2 linked regions of the Homo sapiens genome follow. The protein of the gene in region 1 interacts with the protein of each later gene in a pairwise test. Each region holds a gene or a part of one and is shown on either strand. Other genes may lie near its edges.

Region 1 (7,027 bases):
TGGCTTCCACCCTGTATACTTGCTCCTTGCATTCCTGTTCCCTGCATGACTGGGACCTATGTGTACAAAGAGAAAAGAGAGATTTTTGGCATTTTTAATGTATAGGTAACCTGAATTCAGTAATAATGTGACAAATTATGATCTCTATACAGATATGAGTAAAAAAAGCAAATCAATGACTCTGAAGATCATTTTCTACTGTTAGCAATAGCAGAAGGCAGGGTTTAGCCAGAGATCAACTAGCAAGTTCGACATACTTGCTTACAACACCTCCAGCATCATCAACAAATATTACACAGCACAACTGGATACCACTGAATTAATCAAAATTCAGCCAAATAAGCACAGTGAAAACTGAGAACACCCTGGAAACTAGTGCTCACTGGAAATACAAATGAAAGCCAACAGAGTCTAGAGAAAATGTATGCTGGTCCACTGGGGAAGTTACATTCACAGGGCCACCCCCTACCCTAGTTCAATCAGATACAGGTAGTTTGTCCCAAAGGGCCCTATCCCACAAGTGAGGCAGAGATGTTCATAATGTCAGAGAGGCAGAAAGGCAATGGGAAGGCCTCCAGGAAAAAGACTGCTATTAGCCCAACATTTGCTGTTTATAGCTTTCCATAGAGAACATATGGCAGATGCTTTCTGCTAAATGTAGACCAAAAAATATGACTGACTGGAGTGAAAAAACCAAGTACAGTGATATCATACTTACTGGTACTTAAGATCTTCAATGAGTTCAACCCTTTGCAAGACTACCAGAACCCAAGGAAAAGACCTCTTGAGTACCAAATCTAACTGTTAGAATGTCCCTATACAAGCATTATGTTCACACTCAGGCATTCACCCAGAGCTTAGGTACTCTCTTAATAAACACATATTGTTAACAAACTTGTTACCTGCTTACCCAGCAGATTAGAAGCAGCAAAACATAAAAGAAATACGGATAAATAACTGTTAGGAGCAGATACCACTTCAGTAATATGAAGAGCCAGGTGACGGCCTGACAGTGAAGGAGACCAGAAACCAAACAGGAGATAACTATGTTTTATATTACGGTATAGACAATAATGAATCTATTCAATGATGACCTTGAGTAGTCAAAACTGATTAAACTATTTTTTTGTATCCTGTTCAAGAAAGGAAATATCAAATACTTTTTATAATTTTTTATTAAAAAAGTTAAAAAACTTGGTAGAATAGTTCTATTATCTGGAACATTCACTTACATGCATTAACTCATTTCCCAAAGACAATGGATAGATGAAACATTAGTACAGATTTGTATAGACTGCTAGAATATTATCACTGTTCTGTTCATTATCAATACTGAAACCAGAGACAAGTTTCCAGAGACCAGTCTGAACATTAACGAGCTATTATGGGTCTGAAACACCTATGAGTATAATCTTTTTTTTTAAAATTTTTTATTTCCATAGGTTATTGGGGAACAGGTGGTGTTTGGTCACATGAGTTTATAGCAGCACAATTCGGAATTGAGTATAATCTTTTTGAAGCTTTAATCTGAGGTACTGTAATTGTGATCTAACCACTCAATAACGGCCATTTTAAGTTTCTAGGTGTGCTTGTTCTAGGCAGACAAGTACTAGCAAAAGTGACCATACATCTTGGTTTCCCTAAGATAGTCCCAGTTTATGTTTTTGCCTCCAAGTAAAGTAACAGCACTTTCTTTCATGTTCTCCTTTAGATGATAAATTATATAATCACCCTAGTAATAATAAGCCTTTTGCCCACAAGTTTCTAACTAAGTGGACTAGAGTTAATTTTAAAATCTAATTTAAAAGTATGAATTAAGGACATGTTGTTAAGTTAAAAAAAAAAAAGGTATAGAACAGTGAAAGGGGAAAAATAATATATATTCATGTTTTCCAGAAAGTAACATGAAAAATCTAATAAAAGTGATTATCTACAGGACCTAGAGGGCCACAGGGGAGACAAGCATAGGAGAGGAAGCAAGGTTCCTTTTAGTTTAAGATGTGGTCTCACTATCTTGTGTAGGCGGGCCTCCAACTCCTGGGCTCTACTGATCCTCCTGCCTTAGCCTCCAGAGTAGCTGGGACTACAGGATTCTACCCTGGCTTTTTTTTTTTTTTTAAAGATGGGAGTCTAATATGCTGCCCAGGCTGGAGTGCAGTGGCTAGTCACAGGTGCGATCAGAATGCACCACAGCCTCAAGTTCCTAGACTTAAATGGTCTTCCTGCCCCAGCCTCCAGAGTGCTGGCACTACAGGTGCATGTCACCATGCCTGGCTTGAAGTTCTTAATACATATATCTTTTATAGATGAACGAATATATATATTTATAAGTTAATATATTAATTTAAAATTTTTTTAAAGGTTTGAAGATAAAATTTGTATTTTCTCTTGCCTCAGATCTAATTGGCTTTATCGAATCTACTAATAAAAATGGTATAAACCTAGTATTAGGGTAATAAGTTCAAGTACCAGCAGAGAGAAAGGAGCAAAATATTATCCAGAAATGTTCTTCCAACCCTTACTTGCAATGTCTTGCATCATAGAACTACCAGTAAAATTATGTAAGCGCATTATGTAGTTATTTGTTTGTTATCTGTCTTCCCAACTAGAATGTAAGCCCATGGGGGAAGGGGCTTTGTTCTGTTCACACTGCAGTATCCCCCGTACCTAGATCTATGTTTGGTACATAGTAGGTGCTCAATAAATATTTGCTGAGTGACAGAATGAATGCATAAAAACCATTTCTGTTACTAGGCTACTGACCATAGAGAGTACAATAAAAATCAAGGCCCACAAACACTTCAAACACAATAGAGAACAGTTTTATTCTACACATAGCAAAAAAACCCTCTATTTGTATTTCATATTACAGAGGAGGGGGTAGACACATATCCACACATATACACACACACAAATGTGCAGATAACAGGACAGAGTAGTAAAGTGGAAAAAGTAGTGGCTTCTGTTCCTTGCTCTGCCACTTTTTAGTCATGTGAATTTGGTCAAGTCACCTGAATTCTTGGGCCTTAATTTCCAAATCTATAAACTGAGGGAATTAGATGATTGATGTATTCCATTCCAGCTCTGCCATTATCTTTCTCTCTCTCATACACACAGACATGGGGAGGAAGACACATAAAAAAAGAAGAGAGAAGTACGCAGAGGAAGGGGGGAAAAGGAAGGTGGAGCAGTTAGAGGGAAATGAAGGTGCCAGCATATAAAAACTCACGGAAGAAACACACATACCACCTCTCCACAACCAAGTCGAGATGAAGAGGGAGCATGTACACACAGGCAGAGAGATCCAAATAAAAGAGAGGAGACAAGACTTCGGTTCCACACCTTTTAAGGTGATTATTAATAAACTGCCTTTCACATTCCACTGTTCACTTAGGCTATGTGATGACAATAAATTAACACAGGTCTCTCTAAACCTAAGATTATCTAAATGGCCACTAACAGCTCTTCATATACTCTAACCCAGTGGTTCCCAGTCAGGGTTCACATTAGAATCATTTGGGGGAAGTTTTTCAAACTATCCATGCTCAGATCCTACTAATAAGAGATTCTGAGTTATACCTCGGATGAGATCCGGGCAAGTATATCTTGGAAAAAACCGTGTACATGATGTTGGTTTGTACCCCAATCAAGACTACTTTCTAACCCCTAAATTTTCAGGGGCTCTGCTCCAAATGAATAGCTATTTATTGTGGGATAAGGTTGTTTTTTTTTGAACTACAATCCTGATAGCCAGAAAATCACCACCCTAAGGGACAGAGAAGCTACAGGGAGATCCAAGTCTTCCCTTTCTAACAAGCTAAGAAACAGCCCAAGTCAGAAGGCAGTAATAATTAGGCTCAATAATCAATTCCTGAATAGATCAAGATTTCACTTGGATGCCAGAAGTCAGTGTTACACATACCTGTCTGGATCCCTGGGGGACAACCGCCCCCATGTTAATTGGACTGGGACCCTGCATTCCACTAGGTATAGGTCCTCTGGGGCCAGGCACTGGGCCTCTGGTATCCATGCCTCTGGCCTCCATCCCTCGGACTTCCATTGCACGGGCCTCCATCGCTCGGGCCTCCATTGCACGAGCTTCCATCGCACGGGCCTCCATTGCACGGGCCTCTAATCCTCTGGCATCTAACCCTCTTGCCTCCATGGCTCGGGCCTCCATCCCTCGTGCATCTATTCCTCGGGGATCCCTTCCACCTATAAAGAAAAATGTAACAAAACCATTATGTAGCTACTTGCATGTACTGCAAGAATGATGAACAATCCAAGAAAGATAGAAATCTCTTCTAGTCACATTTGTCCCCTCAGCTATTAACATATGAGACTATTGTCTCCTCCCCAGTTTCTCAGATTTGTGGATAAACCTTAAAGATGCTTGCAAACCTACTGTTCCAGCATTCTTTATCCCAGATTAGAGCCTAAGACAGTTGAGTTCATTATGGCATTTGCAATGTGATCTCCCCTTACCTCTGCCATCCAAGGGTGGACCCCTCTGATCTAGCATGGGTCCTCTTGGTTCTGCCATTAGAGGTCTGGGCTCGGGTAATGGCCCTCCCCTCAGTTCATGTGGGGGTGGTCCTCGGCTCTCATGGCCAGGGACATGGTGCATGGGTGGACCCTGATGAGGTGGTCCCAAGTAACCTCTGGAGATGGAGAAAAACGTTGTATTTTAAAATAGAACAAAACAACAACAAAGTACCAACCAGATCAGTAAGTAAACATCCAACAAAGAGCTGATGTAGTCTATGAATACTAACAAGAAAATAACACCAAATAGATGGAAGAAAAGCTACAGAGATATAAATCCATGTATTCTAGAATTTCGTTATTTGGTTCATAATTAGGGAGGAATCAACGAATATTCATTATATGTATGAGTTTGCAGAACAATGCATAAGAACATGAGCTCTGGATTCAGACTGTATGGGTTCAAATCTAGGCTCTATCACTTATTAGCTGTGTGATATTGGACACATTATTTAACTTTTCCACACATCAGTTTCACGTGTAAAATGGGACTAATAATGGTATCCATCTCACAGGATCTTGTGGATTTAATAAGATGATCTAAGTAAAGTACTCAGAGCAGAGTCAGAGGCATGATCCCCATTAATGTCAATTATTATTACTATCATTATTTTATTTATTTATTTACTTTTGAAATGGAGTTTCACTCTTGTTGCCCAGGCTGGAGTGCAGTGGCATGACCTCGGCTCACTGCAACCTCCACCTCCTGGGTTCAAGCGATTCTCCTGCCTCAGCCTCCCCAGTAGCTGTAATTATAGGCGCCCGCCACCACGCCCGGCTAATTTTTCTATTTTTAGTAGAGATGGGATTTCACCATGTAGGCCAGGCAGGTCTCGAACTCCTGACCTCAAGTGATCCACCCACCTTGGCCTCCCAAAGTACTGGGATTATAGGCGTCAGCCACTGCACCCGGCCTATTATTGCTATTATTAATATTTCCACTACTATAAATTTCCCTGTTCAAGTATGTATACTAAAATTTCCAATTTCTAAAAATATAATAGCTCAAAATGACATACTCAAGTACATAGTTCTGCCTTAGGAGAAGTGCTTACCCTTGGACAGTGGCCATGAATATTGATCTACCTTTTGAAGTAGGCAAACAGGTACAACTGGTACAGAAAGATTTTGTTCTCAGGGAAGAAGGGACAATTCTGATTTCTTCAACTGTTTCCTTCTATGTTAGTGCTTACCTAGGCTCTACCTCTCCAGTTACAGAAAGTAAAGTGCCTCCCCGTGGATCATTCGGAGCATCTCCTAACAAGCCTCGAGGGGTTGGGACATTCGCAGGCAAGGATCCCCGCTGCATAGCTGCTCTGGGGTCTTGCATCGGCACTGACAGGGAAACAAACGGGGAGTTACTGCTGTGAAAGACACATAAGCAAACAAGAAATGACTCTATATACCACTGACAACATAATTCAGACACCTTAGAGTGGGTGAAACCTCACCACAGCAGAATCCTCTTGCAGCTCAAGAACAGAAGCAGGGTGTAGGCAGAATCTGTGCCATGTCAGAGGTATGGATGGAATTATATAAAGAGCAAACTGGGGAGCAACCTGCCAAGGACTAGCACTGCGACCTGGAGAAACTTATGCTCCTGGTTTTCCTTCTAATCAATCTTAGTTCAAGGACCAGAGTCACAAAACAGAGGTAGAGTCTTGGCATATGTGAACACTGCCATGGCTCTGCAAGAACCCGCTGTCTCCTTACAGACTGCTATTCCATCCAAGCCTCCTGACACCAGTAGGGAGGGAGTACAGCCTCGGACAGATGCCCATATCATCCATGTTCTCTGCCCTGTGTGAAGAGGTCAATCTTAGGCTTGTGGCCTCAACAGGAAAAAATTAAAAAAACAAAAACCCAAAAACACTACCCTTTTGGGTTCTGAACGCGAGGATGACTGCCACGCAGCTCTTTTCCTCTCAACGTCCCACCCTGAACACCACAAGCAAAAGGAAACCCACAGATACAATGGGTACCTTGAACTCGCTCAATTGATGCAGGCCCGGCGGGTCCCACGGGCGAGTGCTGTAGGGTTCCTAGGTAAGCAGTAAGTTCAAAAGGAGAAAGAGCAGACACTTAAAATAGCTTGCATACACACGCAGAAACACACACACATGGAGATTGAGATTTACATATATAAGTTAAAAAGCCAAGAGTTCATCGGCTTGCTCCAGGCTACAAAATCTCCCTAAACTACACTAGCTCCTTTGGGTCTCTGAAATAGTTCCATTTTGACCAGATAGCTTTTGAAAGGGAATCCCATGGGGGCACTGGTTTGATCTAGGTGGGAATAACCTGACATTTTCGATTTTCACCTCTGCTACTAGTTTTCCGTTAGGTCTCCTTATGAAATCATTAGGAAAAAAATATATAAAAAGGATAGTTTTGAATCTTCTAGTTATGCAAAGAACATAAATGTAGTTTCAGAAGCAAAACATAAAAGAAACTGCACTGAATCTGGAAGGCAAGATTCATT
Region 2 (7,027 bases), on another chromosome or scaffold:
ACTCCTGAGCTTAAGTGATCCACCCACCTCGGGCTCCCAAAGTGCAGGGATTACAGGCGTGAGCCCCTGTGCCTGGCCTATTCATCATCCATTGGTCTTCCTGAGGTGTCCTATCCAAAATCTCTGGCCAGGCACGATGGCTCATGCCTGTAATTCCAGCACTTTGGCAGGCCGAGGAAGGAGGATCACTTGAGCACAAGAGTTTGAGACTAGCCTGGGCAACATAGGGAGATCTCATCTCCACAAAACATTAAAAAAATTAGATGGGCATGGTGGTGCATGCCTGTAGTCCCAGTTACTCAGGAGGCTGAGGTGGGAGAATCATCTGAGCCTGGGAGATCGAGACTGTGGTGAGCCGTGATCATGCCATTGCACTCCAGCCTGGGTGACAGAGCAAGACTCAGTCTCAAAAAAAAAAAAAAAAAAAGAATTCAACTCAGCAAAAAGCCCAAAGTTGAAAAAATATTTCAGACAAATATAAATAAATAGAAAGCTACAGTTGGAGTAATAAAATCAGACAAAGCTGAAAAAAAGGTACAAAAAAAATTATAAAATCTGGCCGGGTATGGTGGCTCATGCCTGTAATCCCAGCACTCTGGGAGGCTGAGGTGAGAGGATCACTTGAGGCCAGGAGATGGAGACCAACCTGGGCTAAAGTGAGACCCCTATCTCTAATTTAGAAAAGAAAAAACATCCCTCTGCAGAAATACCTTGCCTGGTTTCTATTTTCCTGACCAAACCCTGACCAATACAGCACTCAATAAATACTTGTTGGGACGGGTGTGGTGGCTCATGCCTGTAATCCCAGCACTTTGGGAGGCCAAGGCAGGCAGATCACCTGAGGCCAGGAGTTCGAGACCAGCCTGGCCATCATGGTGAAACCCGTTTCTACTAAAAATACAAAAAAAATTAGTTGGGCGTGGTAGCTCATACCTGTAATACCAGCTACTTGGGAGGCTGAGGCACGAGAATCGCTTGAACCTGAGAGGTGGAGGTTGCAGTGAGCCGAGATCACACCACTGCACTCCAACCTGGGCGATAGAGTGAGACTCTGTCTCAAATAAATAAATAAATACTTGTCACGTGAATAAATTCAGCCATCACTCAAGGCATTACTGAGTAATTAATGTGACTGCCACTGGCATAGGCTCTTATTATCCTCAACAGCTTTTCAGGAGAGTTCCCATTTTAGAGGAGCGCAGACTGAGGTCAGACAGTCCAATGTAAGATATCTACTCTAGGAGTGCTCTGCTAGGTGCTAAGGATGCAAAGTCTAGTAAGACTCAGACCCTGCCCTCAAATACCCTCATCTACATGGAAAATCAACAGCAGCAGCTCCTTCTGTGCTGGTCCTCTCTGGGCTGGTCCCCTCTGACTACCACAAGCCACCAGCATTATCTCAGCATCCCACTAACTTAACTTTTTCTCAATGCAATAAATTCCCTAGAGAAGCTTGTTCTATTCTCCCAGGGTAGGGCAAATCCCCTCGCAGCCCCTCAGAACATCACGTGAATGCCTCGTGGTGGGATCTTCCCACTGGTCTGGGCTCTCTTTACATAAAGAGACTACCTGACAGGGGATGTCTGTGGCTGGATTCTATGGTGAGTCTGAGTTAGTGTGATTTCTAGTGCAGGTGGGTTGTTTCTGTCATAACCATACCCTCTAGCACTGGTGTCTTGGAAGGTTCTATGAACTCAGTGCATTTCAAGTAGATGGCCTATAACTTAGAGCTCATTGGCAGGGAATTAGTATGGTACATTGATTGTATTATGGCACCAATTCTTTGCCCCTCCCTGTACCCAAGCCTTTGCAGTGTGACTCTGCAGTTCCTCCCATCAAGAGGTGGCATCTATTTCCCTACCTGCGCTATCTAAGCTGGACTTGTGATCTGCTTTGGCCAATAGAAGTGATTCTGTGTTACTTACAAGCCTAAACCTCAAAAGGCCTTGGGCATTTCTGTCTGCATTTTTGCACCTCCACCATGGCCATGAGAACCTAGTGGAGGATGAGAGTCACGCAGAACAGAGCTGAGTCACCCCACTTGTCCCAGCCCAGGCCATCCTAGAGCAGCTGACAGCCAGCCAACGTTCAGACATATGAGTGAGCCCAGCCAAGATCCGCAGTTGTCTAGCTGACCACTGTAAACACGTGAATAATAAACACTTTTGGTATATGCCACTGATGCCTGATGGATATTTCTTACCCAGCAATAGCTAACTGATACACCTAGCTTATTAAAAACTGTAAGAGACACTCAGGCAGATAATTTTTTTGAATCTTTTTTCTTTTTTTTGCCTGAAAAGGTAGGCATTCTCTGACTGTTCTGAGCATTACCTGCAGGCAGCTTATATTTCTGCTACAACCTGTACTCCATTCCACCTTCTCATGGCTTGCATCTTACATCTGTGGGTGTGATGCTTTGATTAAAGTCCTTCTCCCCTGTGATGTGGTACACCCCATGAAGGCCAGGACCGGGTCTGGTTTTCATGGTATCCCCAGCACAGTGTCTGGCACACAGCTGGTGCTCAGGATGGGTCCGGGTTGGCCATGATGTCCATGACCAGTGTCCTCTTCCACCCTGCCCCCTCTGCTCACCTCTAGGGGTGGGTAGGGCTGCATCCCCAGTGCCTGGATCTCCACCGTTCCACTCCCAGCCAGGGGCGCAGCAGCACTGTACACCTCCACCACACCGTTCCCACCAGGGTTGGGACGCCCAGGGGGGCCCAGGCTCTGGGGTGGAGGTGGTGGAGGCTGAGGTGGTGGCGGTGGGGGCAGTGGTGGAGGAGGTGGAGGAGGAGGTGGAGGCTGGGTGAGGTAGCTGGGCACGGAATGCATGTTCAGGCTGCTCTGAAATCAGAAAAGAAAAAGTGTTATAGCCTCTTGATACCAGTTGTCTTATTTATCAGGAAGGAAGGACATTTGCTTTAGCCAGCCAGGTGGAAAAACAGCTACTTACCAGACAGCTCAGGAGAGGGGCTAAGAGAGGTTGGGGAAACAAAGTCATGGGAGAATTCGAAGGAAGCCTCAGCTTGGTGCTGCTATCCCTTTTCCCTATGAAAGTAGGCAAAAATGGCCGGGCGCAGTGGCTCACGCCTGTAATCCCAACACTTTGGGAGCTGAGGCGGGCGGATCACGAGGTCAGGAGATCGAGACAACCTTGGCTAATGGTGAAACCCTGTCTCTACTAAAAATACAAAAAATTAGCCGGGCGTGGTGGCGGGCGCCTGTAGTCCCAGCTATCGGGAGGCTGAGGCAGGAGAATGGTGTGAACCTGGGAGACGGAGCTGGCAGTGAGTGGAGATTGCACCACCACACTTTAGCCTGGGTGACAGAGCAAGACTCCATCTCAAAAAAAAAAAAAAAAAAGAAAAGAAAATAGGCAAAAATGACCTCATTCATGCAGAAAAGAGTTAATATAGCAGCCTAATGTTGCTATCTTAAGAAGGGCTTCCCTTTCCATCTTGGACCCAGCAGAATGGCTCCCAGAAAGAAGGGTGGCGAGAAGAAAAAGGGTCATTCGGCCATCAATGAGGTGGTGACCTGAGAATACACCATCAACATTCACAAGTGCATCCATGGAGTGGCTTCAAGAAGCGTGCTCCTCAGGCACTCAAAGAGATTCGGAAACTTGCCATGAAGGAGATGGGAACTCCAGATGTGTGCATTGATACCAGCCTCAACAAAGCTGTCTGAGACAAAGGAATAAAGAATGTCCCATACTGCATCCGTGTGCGGTTGTCCAGAAAATGTTATGAGGATGAAGATCCACCAAATAAGCTCTATACTTTGGTTACCTATGTACCTGTTACCACTTTCAAAAATCTACAGACAGTCAATGTGGATGAGAACTAATCGCTGATCATCAAATACCTCAAATAAAGTTATAAAATTAAAAAAAAAGGGGGGGGGGCTTGCTTGCAGCACTAGCTCGTGACTGGGATCTGAGAATCTGGTTTGTGGGACATCTCCTTTGTTGATAAGGCTTATTTTGCCCACCTGGGGCACTGTTCTATTGTACCAGATTATGTAGACTGCTTGGACAAAATATGTGATTCATGGTGAACACTTCCTTCTCTTCTGGGAGTCTGGAATTTTGGTCATGGTGGCTGGTCACCTACATGACCAATCCCTAACAGAAACCCTGGCCTTGGGCTTGGTGCAGCGGCTAACACCTGTAATCTCAACACTTTGGGAGGCTGAGGCGGGTGGAGTCCAGGAGTTTGAGACCAGCCTGGGCAACATGGCAAAACCCCATCTCTACTAAAAATACAAAAACATTAGCCAGGCATAGTGGTGCACACCTGTAGTCCCAGCTACTTGGGAGGCTGAGGTGGGAGAATCACCTGAGCCCAGGGAGGTGGAGGTTGCAGTGAGCCGAAATTGCACCACTGCACTCCAGCCAGGGCAGCTGAAGTGAGACCCTGTCTCAGAAAAACAAACAAACAAACAAACAAACAAAACCCTGGCTTTGGAGTCTGAAGTGTGTTTCCCTGGGTAGAAACACAGCACACATGTTGCTAGACTTCACTGCTGCAGGAAGAAGTGTGTTTTGTGCAACCTCTCCCCACCTCCCCAAGACAGAGAACTCTGGATTCCTCCAGATTCCACCTGATGTGTCTTTTTCCCTTGCTGATCTTGCTGTGTGTTCCTTTGCTGTAATAAACCACAGCCATGAGTACAACTACCTCTGAGTCCCGTGAGTCTTTTGAGAGAATCATGAATGTGTGGGTAGTCGTGAAACGCAGCCAGTAACTTCTAGAAATTTATGCTACAAAAAAAATCAAGCAGGTGGGCAAAGATGTCTGTTTATGGATAGTGACTCCAGCCATTTTCATAAAAGCAAAAAACAGCAATGACCTACATGTCTATACATAGAAACTTGGCTAAGCAGAAGATGGCCTATCCATATGGTGGAATCCTTTGCAGTTGTTAAAATGATGGTACTGCTGGGTGCAGTGGCTCACACCTGTAATCCCAGCACTTTGGGAGACAGAGGGAGGAGGATTGCTTGAGCCCAGGAGTTCAAGACCAGCCTGGGTAACATAGCGAGACTCTGTCTCTAAAAAAAAATTTTTTTAGGCCAGGCACGGTGGCTCACGCCTGTAATCCCAGGACTTTGGGAGGCCAAGGTGGGCAGATCACCTGAGGTCAGGAGTTCAAGACCAGCCTGGCCAACATGGCAAAACCTTGTCTCTACTAAAAGTACAAAAATTAGCCAGACATGGTGGCGGGTGCCTGTAATACCAGCTACTCAGGAGGCTGAGACAGGAGAATCGCTTGAACCCAGGATGCGGAGATTGCAGTGAGCCGAGATGGTGCCACTGCACTCCAGCCTAGGTGACAAGAGCGAGACTCCATCTCAAAAAAAAAAAAATTTTTTTTTAAAATTAGCCAAGTATGTTGGCACCATGTATGTAGTCCCAGCTCCTCAGGAGGCTGAGCAGGGAGGATTGCTTGAGCCCTGGAGTTTGAGGTTACAGTGAGCTATGATCCTACCACTGTACTCCAGCCTGAGTGACCTGAGTGAGACGCTGTCTCAAAAATAAAAACATGATGCTGATCAGCATTTCATAAAGGACACGGGGTCCTCTTCTTCACTGTGTTCGTTGGGTTCCCAAACAGGGAAAAAAAAAGTCTCGGTTGAGAAAATCAAAAGGATTTCTATATGGCAGGAAGAATCCAGGGACACAGCAAGGGGAGAAGTAAAACACCTCCACCTTAGGTTCCTTTGGCCACAGATCTTTTTTGTATTAAAAAATCCTGGCCAGGTGCAGTAGCTCACGTCTACAATCCCAGCACTTTGAGAGGCCGACACTAGAGGATCCCTTGAGCCCAGGAGTTCAAGATCAGCCTGGACAACAAAGGGAGATGGTCATCTCTACAAAAATTTTTTTTTTAAATCCCAGGGAGCTACTGTGCATTTTCTATTTTTCTAATAGACATGGGACACTTGTTAAGAATAAAAACAAGGCTGGGCGCGGTGGCGCACACCTGTGATCCCAGCACTTTGGGCCAAGGCAGGTGGATCACCTGAGGTCATGAGTTTGAGACCAGCCTGACCAACACAGTGAAACCCCATCTCTACTAAAAATACAAAAATCAGCTGGGCGTGGTGGCGCACACCTGTAATCCCAGCTACTCAGGAGGTTGAGGCAGGAGAATTGCTTGGACCTGGGAGGTGGAAGTTGCAGGGAGCCAAGATCGCACCACTGCACTTCAGCCTGGGCAACAGAGCAAGACTCTGTCTCAAAAAAAAAAAAAGAACAAAAACAAAAGTCAGGCTGGGTGCAGTGGCTCACACCTGTAATCCTGTAATCCCAGCACTTTGGGAGGCCAAGGTGGGAGGATCACCTGAGGTCAGGAGTTTGAGACCAGCCTGGCCAACATGGTGAAACCCCGTCTCCATTAAAAATACAAAAATTGGCTGGGCACAGTGGCTCACACCTGTAATCCTAGCACTTCAGGAGGCTGAGGTGGGGGGCTCACTTGAGGTCAAGAGTTCGTGATCAGCCTGATCAACATGGAGAAAACCTGTCTCTACTAAAAATACAAAAAAAAATTAGCTGGCTGTGGTGGCACATGCCTGTAATCTCAGCTACTCAGGAGGCTGAGGCAGAAGAATCACTTGAACCCAGGAGGCAGAGGTTGCAGTGAGCCAAGATCGTGCCACTGCACTCCAGCCTGGGCAACAGAGTGAGACTCCATCTCAAAAAAAAAAGTCAAAATAGCTGCACTGTATTGACAAAGCCCCACATGTTCTGGGTCCCCACCTAGACGTAGCAGCTTCCCCATCTATAGCAGAGCTGGACAAGGGAAAGCTGATAGCCTCCCTCAGCATCAGGGAGAGCTGGGGCCAGGCCCCCTTTATTCTACAAGATTCTGAATCTGCAGGAGTTAATGTACAGGTCTGGAATCAAGACCCTGTGAGAAGCCCACACCTTCTTACCTGCACAGGTGGGGGGCCCTGGGGCATGGGCTGGTCCAGGGATGTGAAGGCTGACATGGCAGACATGAGCACATCATCGCT

Evidence for each region. The genes of interacting proteins can lie anywhere in the genome.
Region 2: the proteins of CSTF2 (region 1) and ZNF341 interact in binary tests that used the Homo sapiens proteins (3 or more experiments, as listed by UniProt).

Annotation. Positions count from the first base shown.
Region 1 is NC_000023.11:100,830,368-100,837,394, reverse strand, and holds part of CSTF2 (cleavage stimulation factor subunit 2), read right to left. Parts: intron 6,588-7,027; coding exon of another isoform or gene 6,528-6,587; intron 6,346-6,527; coding exon of another isoform or gene 6,173-6,345; exon of another isoform or gene 5,887-6,172; intron 5,881-5,886; coding exon 5,739-5,880; intron 4,662-5,738; coding exon 4,486-4,661; intron 4,216-4,485; coding exon 3,923-4,215; intron 57-3,922; coding exon 1-56. UniProt on the Homo sapiens protein: One of the multiple factors required for polyadenylation and 3'-end cleavage of mammalian pre-mRNAs. This subunit is directly involved in the binding to pre-mRNAs.
Region 2 is NC_000020.11:33,748,992-33,756,018, reverse strand, and holds part of ZNF341 (zinc finger protein 341), read right to left. Parts: coding exon 6,947-7,027; intron 2,848-6,946; coding exon 2,596-2,847; intron 1-2,595. UniProt on the Homo sapiens protein: Transcriptional activator of STAT3 involved in the regulation of immune homeostasis. Also able to activate STAT1 transcription.